2 separate regions of the Homo sapiens genome follow, and region 2 is linked to region 1. Evidence: fine-mapped expression QTL. A gene starts in region 1. The other region holds a variant in brackets. All regions are shown on one strand. Distances are between the middles of the regions.

The links.
Region 2: its variant is fine-mapped to the expression of CRIP1 in whole blood (INTERVAL, PIP above 0.99).

The regions. Positions count from the first base shown.
Region 1 is chr14:105,485,064-105,487,905 of GRCh38, reverse strand. It overlaps CRIP1 (cysteine rich protein 1), which reads right to left and starts at 1,020. Exons shown (of 6, transcript NM_001311.5): 1 at 934-1,020; 2 at 607-707. The coding sequence starts at 646. RefSeq lists silencers at 81-290, 461-590, 641-740, 751-800.
Region 2 is chr14:105,415,070-105,418,027 of GRCh38, reverse strand. MTA1-DT (MTA1 divergent transcript) reads left to right here. Exons shown (of 2, transcript NR_125385.1): 2 at 1-447. Among named protein-coding and RNA genes, the nearest start is that of MTA1-DT, 3.2 kb to the left of the region's middle. RefSeq lists an enhancer at 1-4 and a silencer at 2,673-2,958. The variant T/AAAT (reference allele first, on the strand shown) is at 1,150.

The DNA.
Region 1 (2,842 bases):
TGAAGGCTGGGTGGGGCTAGAGGGCGAGGCCGAGGGTCAGGGGTCGCGGCTTAGGTCAGCAGGGCCTGGGCCTGGCTGCCTGCTTTCAGCCCCGGGCCTCTGCGGTGGCAAGGGTGGAGCCTGCGACAGCCCTTCTCGGCGGGGACAGGGGTGACTTCCCACTTCCTCCCTCCCCTCGGGGCGCGCGGGCGCGGGGCAGGGAGGCGGGCGCCCGGGATCGCGCCCCGGGCGTCGGTTTCCGCGTCTGTTTCCACTTAGCGCTGGGGGGCGCGGCCCCAGCCCCGCGTTCCTTCCAGCCCTGCGGGTCCCCCACTCAGGGCGCGCCTGAGAGGAAACGGCAGAGACCGTAGGACCCAGAGACGGGGAGGCTCAGAGCCAGAGGTAGCCCGCCGAGCACAGCAAGACCACTAGCAGGCAGAGATCGCCAGGGCCCTCGGACGCAGGGGCCTCCACCCTCATCCCGGGGCAGGCGGCGGGCCAGGCTGAGGCGTTTTCAGGCTGGGGCGCCGCCCCAGGGACCCAGCGCCCCCGGTCCTCCTGAGCGGTCCCCAGCCTCGTCGCCCCGTCGGCGGCGCCTCCTCGCGGGGCCGGTGTGGGCGCGCTCACCGAAGTACACCTCCTTGTTGCACTTGGGACACTTGGGCATGACGGCTCCGGGTCCGGTGCAGGCGGCAGCGGCTGGGGCGGCACGGGCTGCAGGCGCGAGACTGGGTGGATCCGGCCTGGTCCGCGCCTTTCAGGGACCCCGGGACCCCGCCCCTTGGAGACCCCGCCCCTCGCGCCCCGCCCTCTGAACCCAGGACTTGGACCCTGGGGACCTCGAATCTAGGCCCAGGGCCCAAGAAAGATCATCTGGTCCACCCCCGCCTTCAGGCAGGACCCGGGCCTGACTGAGGACGGAGCGCGGGGGGGCAGGGGGCCATGGGGACTTACTGAGAGGGCGCAGCTCTTTAGGCGAGTTCAAGCCGCGCCCCTAGCCCAGCGCTGTGATGTCTCCCGGGTCCAGTTCCGAGGCAAAAGGCTCACCCGCAGCAGGAAACGCCGCTCCCACCCCCAGCCCTACCCCACCGGCACCCGCCCGAACCCCAGATCTGCCCGGGCCAGGACTGGACCAAACATCACTAAAATGCAAAGAGATGCAAAGCAGCCCGCGCGCTGATCCTGCCCTCCCCAGGACGGAGGGTCGGGGACAATTGCCGGAGAGCCCCCGCTGTTGCCCCCCACCGAGGAACCCACTCTGACCTTCCATCCCACGCAGGGTTACGAGGCCGCCCCTGTCAGTCCCCTCACTCCCAAGGGACGTCCCCGCCTCTGCTAGCTCCCCTGACCTCCGCTGCTCTGGGAGGTCCATCGGACCGCAGCGGGAACATCCCCGGGGAATTCAAAAGCGGGGACTCCCAGAGAGGGGAGCTGTAGCTTGAGGACCGATCGGCTGCGGGGGCTGCGGGGGCTGGGGTTTCGGCCGGCAAAAGAGAGTTCAGCCACCCCCAGGCCGGCTCGGAGATGCCCGGACCGGGCGCAGGGAGGGGCCCTTATCTCTGCGGGTAGCGCCCAGGGCGGCCAGAGCGGTCCAAGTACGCTGCAAAGTTGAGGCGGAGGATGGTCCCGGTGCCAGGCGGAGTCTGTCCCGCCTCACCCGCCCCCCAGATTCAGGAGGGCCAAGGGGGCTGCGCTGGCCTCGGGCTTTGGGGTCAGCCCTCTAGCTGACTGGCCAGCCTCAGGAAGGGAGCCCAGGTCACTGTCAGCCCCCTCTCCTGTCACTGAGCAGGGGAGCCCTCTCTCTGCAGGCCCTTCACCTCCATGCTGCATGGAGCTCCCTGGGAGCTCCCACAGCACAAGGGCGGTGCTGCCCTTCCTCCCCACCCACCATCCCTCCTGTCAGCCATGTTAACCAGCGTCCTTATCTCCCCTCGATCTCCACTGGGCCTGTGCTGGCCCTGTCCCCGCTGGGGGCGCTGGAGACCATCCTCCTGGGCCCCAGGAGCCGCTGGCCTACCGCTGTCGGGCCCTGAGCCCTAACTGCACCTGTGATCCCAACCTCACTTTCCCTGAATCCTACCGCACCCCTGTCGGCACCTCGAGGCCTGCACTTAGAGGAAGAGAAGCCGCCTGCCCTGCCCTGTCTGCCACCAGTCCCCAGCTTGGGGAGAGGGCAGGGGCAGCAGGGCTGTAGGACGGCCAAGGCACAGGCGTCTGGCACAGAGGCCACACTCCAGAGAGCCCCACACCAGCACACCCAGCCCAAGGCCACATCCTGCTTGCCCTCCTCCTGGCGCCCCTCTAAGGCCACAGTTCTGTCCCCCGACTGGGGCTAAGTCCTGGGGTCTGATAGGACATTCCACAGGGGCCCATTGGAGCCCTCCTCATCCCCCATTCTGAGACCTCAGAGATAAGGTTTCCAGAGTAGGGGTGCGCTCCTGTCCTGCAAACTTGGAACCCCCACTCTCCAGCCCATGAGCCTTGAAACCCACTCTGAGGTCTGGGCCCACCTGCCATCTCCACTGAGTGTGGGGCATCGTGGGACAAACCTGCAGACAAGCAGAGGGAGAGGCAGAGGCACCAAGAAGGGGGAGAGGCCAGGGGAGCCCGGACAGTATTGGGGAGGCCGGGGGCTCTGTCACTGCACTTTCCCTGGGGCGTGCGCTGCCCCCAAGCCCCAGGGTGCCCAGCACCGCTGTCCACACCCCCACCAGGATGACGTGCTCCGGGTGCAGAGGTGCAGGGCAAGTGCCTGATGCACACGTGTGTGCCTGGTGCCCGTGGACATACCCGTATGGGTGTGTCCATCAGGGGTCTCTGGGGTCCCCGCGAGCATGTGTGTGGTCCCTCTCGCAGTTGTCCG
Region 2 (2,958 bases), 70 kb after region 1:
CCAGTGGGAGTGGAGAGAACTGACTGCTGGAGTGGAGACAGTCAAGGCTGTCCTTCTGAGGGAGCACAGCACAGGGTCTGGTGTCCCAGGGAGGCAATCTGAAATTCAAGCCAGGCCTCCCCAGCGGAGAGGACACACCCCTCACCATGCAGAGTGACGTTTAGTAAACTCTCAAAAGAGAGCACAGAGCCCCACTCCTCCAGCCGACCCATACTCTGCCTCCCCACTCCAGACCAGTGAACAAGGTGGATTGCCCTTAAGCCAGCTCAGAGGCAAAGTCCAAAGACCTCAGGTGAGTCAAACAATAAAAACAAAGAATTAAGAAGAATCCAGCTGGGTGCGGTGGCTCACGCCTGTAATCCCAGCACTTTGGGAGGCTGAGGCGGGAGGATCACGAGCAGGAGGTCGAGACCATCCTGGCTAACACGGTGAAACCCCGTCTCTACTAAAAATAGAAAAAATTAGCTGGGCGTGGTGGCGGGCGCCTGTAGTCCCAGCTACTCCGGAGGCTGAGGCAGAAGAATGGCGTGAACCCAGGAAGCGGAGCTTGCAGTGAGCCGAGATCATGCCACTGCACTCCAGCCTGGGCGACAGAGCGAGACTCCGTCTCCAAAAAAAAAAAAAAAAAAAAAATCCATCCACTCCATCCACTTAGTAGCAGAGCGAATAGACATTCAGGAAAGAGCTTTCACGTCAGAAAGCACTACAGAAGTAGTGGCATATCCCCGGAGGCTGAGGTGGGAGCATTGCTGAGAGGTGGCACGTGACCACATCCATGTCATTCAACAACAGAAAAACAAGTCATCGAGGGTGTGAGGGGCCGGTGAGAAACCCAGTATGGAAGAAAACACAACTGGGCTGAGCGTGGTGGCTCACGCCTGTAATCCCAGCACTTTGGGAGGCCAAGGCAGGAGGATCACCTGAGGTCAGGAGTTCGAGACCAGCCTGGTCAACATAGTGAAACCTCATCTCTACTAAAAATACAAAAAAATTAACTGGGTGTGGTAGCGCGTGCCTGTAGTCCCAGCTACTCCGGAGGCTGAGGCAGGAGAATTGCATGAACCCAGGAGCCGAGACCACACCACTGCACTCCAGCCTGGGGGCGGCACAGTGAGACTCCGTCTCAAAGAAACAAAAATAAAAAATAAA[T/AAAT]AAATAAATAAATAAATAAATAAGAAAACGCAACCAAAGAAACAGAAGAGGACTCCACAGGACTTCTTTCAGAGCTTCATAGCAGCATGAATTCAACAATCAGGAATTCAAATGCTTGACGACAAAACAGCAGGATGGGAGGAAGAGTTAAGAGCCAAGCAAACCGGAAGCACCAAAATCGCACCGTGGCTGGATCAAGTCATAAACAGCAAAGGGCAGAATATCAAGTTACTTGGAGATGAAAGGCTTGAGATAATTTCAGAGCAAGACAAAGTGATTAACACAATAATTTACTCATTGATTATTTGTTAAACATCTACTTCAAGCTACAGGCCACTCTAGGCCTTGGAGGGTAAGGAAACAGCACCTTTGCCCTCAGAGGGTTTGCAATCTAGCAGGGAGGGGAACATAATAAAGTGTATAAAACCAGGGCTCTGGCTCTGAAGTTCCAGCACTTTGGGCAGGTCACTTGAACCCAGGAGTTTGAGACCAGCCTGGGCAACATAGTGAAAACCCATCTCTACTGAAAAATATAAAAATTAGCGGGGCGTGGTGGTGCATGCCTGTAGTCCCTGCTACTTGAGAGGCTGAGGCAGGAGGATAGCTTAGGCCTGAGAGGCATAGTTCGCAGTGAGCCGAGATAGCACCTCTGCACTGCGGCGTGGGTGGCAGAGCAAGACCCTGTCTAACAACAACAACAAAAACTGATCTTAAGTCCAGCCAGTAAAGATGTAAATCAAAACAAAGACTTTCAGTGGGTCAAATACTGGCGGTGAGCCTTGATCTTCTGGTAAGAAATGCCCTGCCAGGGGATATGGAAATGTCAGTGCCAGTTCCTCACCATTCACAGGCAGAAGTCAGCCGGTGCCGCCTCAGCCGAACCGTGCTTTGCTGCTGTAAACCAAACACACTCATCTCTTGATGTTTTTGTAATTTCTAAAAATAATCGTAGAAGACTTTTTTTTTTTTTTTTTTGGAGACAGGGTCTCACTCTGTCACCCAGGCTCAAGTGCAGTGGGCCTATCTCGGCTCACTGCAGCCTCGACTTCCTGAGCTCAAGCGATCCTCCCACCTCAGCCTCCCAAGTAGCTGGGACTACAGGAGAGCACCACCACGCCCGGCTGATTTTTGTATCTTCAGTATGGATGGAGCTTCCCTTTGTTGCCCAGGCTGTTCTCCAACTCCTGAGCTCAAGCGATCTGCCTGCCTTGGCTTCCCAAAGTGCCGGGATTACAGGCCTGAGCCACGGCGCCCGGCCATCGTAAGGAGACTTTTAAACTTGAGGTGAAGAAGCATTCATCTGCTTTTAGCAATTTTTTTCTTTAAATATTTAAAAGTCTATAAGTAGCAACTCGACACGTATTTCTGTATTTCCATTACATCCTTTTATCTCCCCATATACATTTAGAAATATCTGGGATAACCTTTAGGTAATGTTAACAGCTGTTATTCCAGGGAGGACACTGGGCGCGTTTTTAAAGCTGTATTCGTTGCTGTATTAATAGCAAGCGGTGTTTCTGCAAAGCCAAGGAAGGCGTTTCTCCAGCGGGGCCGCGTCGGGCATTGTCTGGTGCGCCGGGGAAGGCCGCGAACTACATCTCCCAGGCGCCCCGCGCCCCGTTCCGCGCCCCGCGCCCCCGCCCGCGCGGCTCCTGCTGTGGTGCCGGAGCGTCCTCGGCTCGGTCCGGAGCCAGCCGGAGTCACAATTCGAATCGGGCGTGGGAAGCCCGGGGGACCACGCGGCCAACCCTGGGCGGACCTGCGCGCCGGAGACCGCGTCCCCGGGAGCCCCCAAACGCTACCCCGCGC